Regions from separate parts of the Homo sapiens genome. Here region 1 is linked to region 2. The links come from fine-mapping of genetic effects on gene expression. A gene starts in region 2. The other region holds a variant in brackets. All regions are shown on one strand. Distances are between the middles of the regions.

Region 1 (4,387 bases), 46 kb after region 2:
CTCAGGGTGGCCAGGTAGAGACCCATGGGACATCCTTGGCTGGCTGAGCATCTCCTAGTCTCCTAGCCTGAAGACAACAGGATGAAGAGGAGAATCAAGTTGTCTATTTTCAGTAAACCTGTAGTTTAGCAACTTTAGTAGCCTTTAGTAAAATACATAGCGTGGTTTCCAGCCCCACTGAAACCAATTATCCTTTATACCTGCTTGGAATTATTCTCTAGTTCATGTTTGTATATCCTGCCTGTGGAATTGTTTCTCTTTATTTATTCCTATTAACTTGTATTTACTTTGCCAACCCTAAATAATGAGATTCAGAAAATATAAATAAGTATTAGTATATCAAGTTTATCAGAACAAAAGCTTGACAGTGGCCACCCAGAAACACAGACTTCAAACAAATGGGGCCCAAAGTGGACTAGTGAAGTTTTCACCTATGTAGAAATTGTAGCAGGATCACAACCTTGCAAAGGAACAGTGACCTGGGGGGCCCTTATCTCCAATCCTGTTTGGTCTTAATTATTCACAGGGAAAAAAAAAGTAGAAGTTTCAGCTGTGAAACATGTCCTCTCAAGACTCAGAATTTAAAGTTCCAACAGCTTTGTTTGAATTATTCAATGTGACAACCTCAACTAATATTTCACCTAGATTGTTTCCCATGCATCTTTATATGGAGGAAATTAAGCAGCAGAAAGAAGCTCCAAATGCAGCAGCGATCCTGTACTTCAGAGAAAACCCAGGCAGACTCTTAGAGGGGCCTTTGTGAAGTGGCTGTGGTGGGACCCCAGGAGGAAGCACTCTCAATCTGCCCATCAACCCCAAGACTCCCAGCCATGCCCTCAGGGCCTGAGCTTTCTCAGGAATCGTATTTTATCACAGCTCATCTGAGGGGTCAGGCAGCTGTGCATTGCCTGCCTTTGCATTTGTATTGACAGTCACAGCTTTCCCGACGAGGGGTAAAGACTTCCTGTAGATATTGTTCAAGCCCAGACAAGGCCCAAGATGGCACAAGCATGTGGTAGGAAGGAAGTTTCTAAGGGGCTGAGATGGGAGACGGGAGAGGAAACGGCCCTGGCACGCACCCTCCGCCCCCTCACTCCCAAGGGCCGGCCCTGGGGCCATTCGTGTGTGCTCGGGCTACAGACACTGACGGTTTCCCATAAAAGTGTCACCAGTGACATATTTTGTTGGTTTGCTTTAATCCCTAGCTAGTGTCTGTATTGCATTTGTAAACTCTAAACTTTGGTATTGTCGCGAGTTGAAAGCTCAAGGGGTTCCTACCTAGTATTCTGTCCGTACATATCTAAGTAATGTGATAATCCTGATGACTGGTGCCCACACAGGGTCAGATGCCCACGTCTGAGTGATGCTACTCCCACCAGAGCAGTTGTTACTGTTGGAGAAATATAATTTTTAGAAAAACCCGAAATCTTTTCATTACCCAGAAAATCTCTCCATAAGGGTAGCAGAGGAAGAAGACAGATTTATTCTTGAACAAGCATCAAACCAGAATATGGCACGTGCCCCAGGCAATCCGCTGAGAGATTGCAAAGACAGGAAGGCCTCTCAGCCCTTCTGCAGCCCGGCAGGCCCGGCCCATTCCACACAGTTCTCAGCACAAACCATCACCAGTCCTTACCAATGAGAGGAGCTGATGGTGCCTTTGATCACAGTGTACATCCTCACTCTAGCATCATAACCGGGAGACCACTTGTGTTGGCTTTAACCCTAAGAAAAGCAACCTTCTCACACATCTTTAAGATGGGAGCTAGTTTTGCAAACTGGAGCAAGGCGCCCACCCACGTTAGACTCTTCACCCTCTCCTGGGGAGTGGGAGCTAGAGTTATCTTCAAGGATGTTTCCATTTCAAAAACACAGTTCCCAGGTGGAGTTTTGAGACTGCAGAGAGGCTTTTTAGCCATTTTAAAGATTTATATGTATTTGGAAAAAGCAGAGAAAGAAGCTCTGAAAGACAAGGGGGCAGTGGGAAGTCTCTTCTCTATTTTCTTTT[CTT/C]TTTTTTTTTTTTTTTTTTTTGTCAGAGTCTTGCTCTTGACACCCAAGCTGGAGTGCAATGGCATGATGTCAGCTCACTGCAAACTCCACCTCCCAGATTCAAGCGATTCTCCTGCCTCAGCCTCCCGAGTAGCTGGGATTACAGGCATGAGCCACCACCCCTGGCTAATTTTTGTATTTTAGTAGAGATGGCGTTCGCCATGTTGGCCAGGCTGGTCTCGAACTCCTGACCTCAGGTGATCTGCCTGAGTCCCCAAGCCCACTGCTTCCGGGAGACAGAGGATGTGTGCTGAGTGCTGTCTCCCCAGGGTATTGATCTCTGCTTCTGCAGATGCTCAACGGGACCAGAGGGTGACTCAGTTACTAGTGGCCGCTCAAGGCGTGGGCCGAGGTCTAACTGAAATCCTGGTGTTGACATTTCTCAGCCAGTCATGTTCTTCGGGCAGATTTGCCCACTCAAAGCCCTTGGTGCTGTGATGATTCAACTAATTACCGACCAAACAATACAAAAGCATCTTAACACTCCACAGCACCATTTCCCTCTTTTAAAGCCAGGTGAGCCGTAAATGAGATAATGGCAGGAAAGATGCATCTGCTGGGTGAGGAAGAAAACTAGAAAATTGATTTATCATGTCTCAGTCTGGGAGCTAATAGACTTTGGGTGACTCAAGAGTCTGGTGACTCAAGGGATGAGGAAGTTGTACTTCTGGTCCCTTTAGGTTGTCACCTGAAGTGCCTTGCCTCCTAGCCCACTAGTGACCCCAGGCTCTTGCTAGCTAATGACTGTGAGTTTGATCACTGTGGCGTAATTAACTGATGTCTTCCTGTGCTGCTCGGTACCGGCAGTGACAGTGGCTGTCCACAGTAATGACACCATCACAACCTTCCAGATTCAGCTCCTTGTCCTGCTGGACTCGGCTCCTCTCCTCCACTTTCACCCTCCCCACTCTCCCCTCTCTTGGTTCCGCTCCAAGATTTTGCTTGGTGTTCCAGAACTCTTGGTGTTAGAAATGGGTTTCACAATTAACCTTCCCAGGCCATGTCATGGGTGGTGGCCTTAGCTCTCCTTCCGCTTCTTGGGAATTTGGTGCTTCAGAGGTGGTGGGTGCCAGTGTCTTGCTGGTTGGAGTGCACTGGGTCCTCTGCCCACTGTTTCTCTCCTTCTGCTGCAGATCTTTGAGCTGAATAAGCATATTTCAGCTGTGGAATGCCTGCTGACCTACCTGGAGAACACAGTTGTGCCTCCCTTGGCCAAGGTAACACTGGGGGCTGGGCAAAGAGAAAGGGCCCCCACAGCTCCTTAGTTAAAGGAGGCTGAAGTGTGACATGGGCTTTTGGGAGAAGAGTTTCTTGAGATTTTGCTGTTTGTAAGGTTAAGTTCTGTGTGTAGTTCTCAGAGAGCCAGGCAGTTCCCACCACATAGCCTGAGTGAAGTCTTCTGTCCCATCCAGGCCTGCCACCACCTCTCATGCCCAGAGCTTGAATGAGAGAATGCTTGGAGGGCACATACGTGTAACAGCCTTCCCAGGGGACATAACTGGAGATGGGAGGAAACTTGCTTGGCCCTACAGCCTCTGAAGTCTAGGCACCAAAGCAGGGTGGAATCTCCTTCCGCACCATGTTTGTGAATGTATCATCAGCACAGCTTAGTCTGCTATATGCTGCTATAGCAAAATACCACAGACTGGGTAACTTATAATGAGCAGAAATGTATTTGGCTCATGGTTCTGGAGACTGGGAAGTCTAGGACCAAGGGGTGGCATCTGGTGAGGGCCTTCTTGCTGTGTCACCACATGGCACATGGTGACAGAGGGCAGGAGAGACAGAAAGCAAGATGGAACTGAACTTGCTTTTATAACAACCACCCTGGAATGAATAACAAATTCATTCCTTCAATAATGATATTAATCCATTCATGAAGGCAGAGCCCTCACGACCTAATCACCTCTTGAAGGTCCCACCTCTCAACACTATTGCACTGGGGATCGAGTTCCCAACACATGAACTTTAGGGGACACAGTCAAACCACAACAGCACACCGAGACAACCTGATGGGGAGTAAATAAAACAAACCATGGCCTGCTGCAGGAGTGTGTGTGCATGTGTGTGTGTGTGCTTTTGTGTCTGAGAGACAGGCAGACAGACAGCCGGGGTGCAGAGGGAGTAGGGACCCAGTCCTCCATTCCAGCTGAGTCACAGCCACACATCTAGCACCTGGGCACGGAGATAAGGAGATTCAGCAAATATGATTAAGTATTGAGTTTCTTTGAGCACAAAGTTTGAGGACAGCCTTCTGGGCCACACAGACTCCATAGGAATGGGGTCAGTGCTCCAAAGTGGAGAATTTAAAGTTTCACTTATATAGGCAGAAACAGAG
Region 2 (4,387 bases):
AATCTATAGGCTTTTAGTCTACAGATATATCAGTATGTATGTACAATGATATTCATGTGTCATCCTATGTATGATAGGTGTCAATAAGAATTATCTAGGATGATATTTATGGCAGAATCATTTAAATAGCAAAAAATCAAAAATTAACTGTCCATCAATAGAAGACTGGTAAGTAATTATGGTAACTCACACATTGGATACTCTGCAACCAAAAAAGGATGAAGTAGATCAACAGGAATAGTAATTAATATTTACCAAGCACTCACCACATGGTGTCTCACCCAAGCTGCAGGGATATTGATTCACAACACCCTTATGTGTAACTCCCATTACTATTCTCATCATGGAGAAGAGAGAAAAAAGTCAGTAGAAGATTCAGTAACAGGTCCAAGATGACACAGCTTGTGGGCCACACTCCTAGTTGGAATTCCGACTCTTGCAGTTGGTTTGAGCCCACATGCTTAACCTCACACACACACACACCATTCAGAAAGAATATAGAAGACACCATTAATAATGATTGCTTTCTGGTCATGGAGGTTAGTAATGGAATAAGAGAGAATTTGGCTTTTCATTTTATACTCCTTATATTCTTTACTATATACCTTATATATCAGCGTGTGTCAGTTGTATATTTTTTAAAACCACTACTTCAAATAAATAAGCACTAAAGTATTAAAAACATTTTTAAAAACTTCTGCCCTTAAGGAACTTAAGTCCCTACATCAACTCTTAAGGGATTTATTAATCTTAACAAGTAACAGTAAAGTATATGGCAAGGAGGTAAGGAAATGAAAAACATAAGCACCAGATCATATGGGATGTGGAAATACTGGCTTCAGTGTAAGCTTCACTCTATTCCAGGGTTCACACTCAACAATTGATGGTGTTTGGTAAGAGCACCTGTCTCAAAGCAGCCCAGGGGCCTGAAATACCCTGATTCACCTACAGTGTTCCCCTGGGCTCAGCAGGCAACAACATTCTTTTTTGTTCTTTTGCAGCCTTTTGAAAGCTGTTTACAAATAATCTAATGTGATATCACAACAATCCTATAAGGTTTTGATTCCTCTTCTGTTAAATGGAGATACTAGTATCTATTCATTCACCTAATGGCTTTATTCCTATCATTTTGCAGATAGGAAAACTGAATTGCAAAAGCGGTTCCTGGAGAACAGAATGTGAGTTTTTAAGTGACAAGGGAGAGGGAGGGGGAGGGAGAGAAAATTCTGAAGCGCCCAGTCTTGGAGGATGAGGGAGGAGGGCAATTCCCTAATGTCCATTGGAATTCGGAAGGACAGGCAGGCCGGGCGGACTGGAGACGGCGGCTCGCCTTGGGACCCTCTGAGCTTGCGGGCCCCGCTGAGCACCCAAAGGCCGGCCCTAGAGTCCAGGAGAAGAGCGCAGCGGCGCGGAGCTCCCAGGCGTTCCCCGCAGCGCGTCCTCGGTCCTGGAACCACCGCGCCGCGCGTCCTGGCTTCCACATCTGCCCCATTTGCCCGCGGATCTTGACTTTTTCTTGGCGGGCAAGGCCTCGGTCTCCTCCCCGCAGCAGGGCTGCCCGCGGCTGCGGGACCCTCCTGGTCCTGATGCCTGGCAGAATCGAAGGGGTGAGGGTACGCTCTCTGCAGCAGAAAGCCCTGGGCTTAAAGTCCTATTTATTATTTGGCGTTGCCACTTACTGGTCGGTGGCTTTGGTAGGGCGCGTTTCTGAGCCTCAGTTTCCCCATTTGTAAAGCCGAAGTACATAGCGCTTTCCCTGCAGAGTTAGAAATTTCGACGATGTGCCGCGCGCTCTAGAGCGCGCTCAGCAAGCGGGTCCCACCGTGCCCAAGGCAGGACCGCGGCGCGATGTCACCTATGCAAAGTCGCCGCAACTCACGGGAATCGCAGCTGTGTGCTCAACTTTCCCCTCCCCGCCGCCGTCTTTCTCCCCAAACTGGCTTGGGGGTCGAGTATCCGGGGCTCTCCCCCGCACTGGCGCTTCCCGCGCGGGCGCCCCAGGTGTCCGTTCCGTTCCGCCCTCTGCCTGGCAGGGCATCCAGAGGTGTCCGCGCTCCCGGAGCTGGGCGGAGCGGGGCGCAGCCCACGTGGTTCGGGCGGGAGGCGCCGGGACGTGGCCAGTTGCCCGCCTGCCCCGGAGAGCCAGGCGCTAACCAGCCGCTCTGCGCCCCGCGCCCTGCTTGCCCCCATTATCCAGCCTTGCCCCGGCGCCCTGACCTGACGCCCTGGCCTGACGCCCTGCTTCGTCGCCTCCTTTCTCTCCCAGGTGCTGGACCAGGGACTGAGCGTCCCCCGGAGAGGGTCCGGTGAGTGCACTGAGAAGAGGGAACAGCGGGGCCAGGGTGGCGCCCAGGACTCGGGGCTTAGGCTTTGGGGGGTGCGCGGTGTCGCGTGCAGACCCACTGGTGTGAAAACGCCCCCAGCCGCCAGCCTCCCGGCCTCGGTCCAGGCTGGTGAGGACAGCGCGTTCCCAGCCACCCAGCCTTAGTCCCCCAGGCTTCACCTGGATTCTTTGAGCAGACTGCTCTGGGTGCAGGCACGGGTGGGAGTGGGATGGCGGGGGATCCCCATTTTGGGCAAAACGGTTGGTTTTAATCAGAAGCTCCATTGCCTCCATTGCGAGTCTGCCATGCAGACTGGGCCAAGGCTGCTGATGCCAAGTAGGCTGGCCCCAGGGGAAAGGTTTCCTCCCAGCCCAGGAGCTGGTCTTGGGGTGAGGAAGAGGCCAGATGATCTTGGCCTGGGAGGAGGCACCTGGCTTCCTCTGGGCGTCTAAAAGTCTGTTTTATTGGAATCACCTTTTGTTTGCAGACAGACTCCCTGGGCCCACCAGGGAGGTGTGGGAAGTAGAGATGTGGGAAGGGTCTGTGAGCTGTGAGCACCTGTGGGCTTCGTCCCTACTAGCCCCAAGTCCCTACAGGAACGGAATCTCACTTGTAAATCCCTTCCCCGGGCTTAGACACCGCGTCCCACTGACATTAACTGGCACTGGAAACTCCACCTCACTTCCACACGGAACTTGGGACAGGTCCTTTTTTAGATGGTGTGACTGGTATCTTCTTCACTTATTTCTTTCTGAGGGAGTGAAATGACAGTCGGGGGAGAGCAAGGCTCCCAATAGGTGCAAAGGCCAGCATTGCTGGGGGCTGTGAAGTCTCAGGAAAAGGCTTCTGGACTTGCAGACCGCGTTGCTGAGCAGTGACATTGACACCCCGGGTTCAGCTGTCCTGCATCTGTCCTAGGAAACCCATCCCTCCAGCTGGCCTGCATCTGTCCTAGGAAACCCATCCCTCCAGCTGGCCTGCATCTGTCCTAGGAAACACATCCCTCCACCTGCTCATTGGCGGGATTCAGCTGACCTCAGTAAGGCCTCAGCCTTCCTGGGCCCAGCCCCCTCCCTGCCCAGGACCGTGCTCCTTAGTATCTAAGTACCAGGCATGGGTCACTGTGCTCCTGGCCCTCACTCAGGCTCTAAGAACAGTAGCAGGTGCCTCAGAGGATTGACTGAGGACACATTTAGAGAACATGGGATGGTGCCCGGCACACACATGGGGAGTCAGTGGGTCTTACTGAGTACGACATGAGTGACTCAGAAAAAAATTAAAACAAACCAGCTGAATGTGTGCCCAGTGAGGGGCTGGAGGTGGTGGAAGTGTCCCAGAGCCCTGTGGGCTAATGGGAAAAGTGAAATTGGTGCCTTTCAACCACAATGCAATAACGGCTCAAATAAGCCCCAGTCTCAGTGGTTGGGGCAGCCTTCTAGGGCCAACTGTCTTGTTCTTTTCAGAAGCAACCTCTGGAGGAACAGTCTTTGCCCCTACTCCTCCCCACTACCCCCACACCATCACTCCCCCTCTTAATTTCAACATCCTGGCATCATCCAGGGCTGGAGAGGGCCAGAGAGGTCTTGGAGCTCAGCCATTGTCCATGGTACAGATGGGGAAACTAAGACCCTGAGAGGAGGGGCATCTTTCCCAGGTGGCTGGGCTGGCTGTGCCTGAACTGGGATGGGAACCCAGCTCCCACCTCTCAGCACCATCCTCCTACAGCCTCACCTGGGACCCATCCTTGCGGTAGAGACTAGCACTGAGGCTTTAGGTGTAAATGCAGAACTCATGTCCATTTATAAATGAGGTTTACCACCAACTCCCCAGAGAACTGGGAGAGCAGAGGGGATGGCAAGTTGGTGGGCAGGTGGCTGAGGGGCAGAACACCCTCCCAGTGCTGTTGCTGCTGGGGCCATTCCAGACCCTTGTGGCTACAGCACAGATGTGCCTGGTTCACTTGTAGGGAAGGGAGTGGCCCTTCTAGGTGGAAATGTGCTCATTTAGCCACTGATGAGAGCTGGGGGTCAGTGCCTACTGATGGGCCCCACCTATAGAAATAA

Alleles and levels. Alleles are on the strand shown, and positions count from the first base shown. SD is a standard deviation of normalised expression in the study named.
With allele C in place of CTT in region 1, the expression in skin of the gene that starts at base 2,120 in region 2 is lower (moderate effect, 0.46 SD a copy in TwinsUK).

Evidence for each region. PIP is the estimated chance that this variant, and not a neighbour inherited with it, causes the effect. A credible set is the group of variants that fine-mapping cannot tell apart.
Region 1: its variant is the best candidate, but not a certain one, in a credible set for the expression of MLPH in skin (TwinsUK, PIP 0.70).

The regions. Positions count from the first base shown.
Region 1 is chr2:237,531,382-237,535,768 of GRCh38, forward strand. It overlaps MLPH (melanophilin), which reads left to right. Exons shown (of 16, transcript NM_024101.7): 9 at 3,183-3,266. Among named protein-coding and RNA genes, the nearest start is that of MIR6811, 23 kb to the left of the region's middle. The variant CTT/C (reference allele first, on the strand shown) is at 2,009.
Region 2 is chr2:237,485,132-237,489,518 of GRCh38, forward strand. It overlaps MLPH (melanophilin), which reads left to right and starts at 2,120. Exons shown (of 16, transcript NM_024101.7): 1 at 2,120-2,306. LOC105373957 (a long non-coding RNA gene) reads right to left here and starts at 2,017. Exons shown (of 2, transcript XR_001739962.2): 1 at 1,680-2,017; 2 at 569-1,590. RefSeq lists an enhancer at 987-1,955.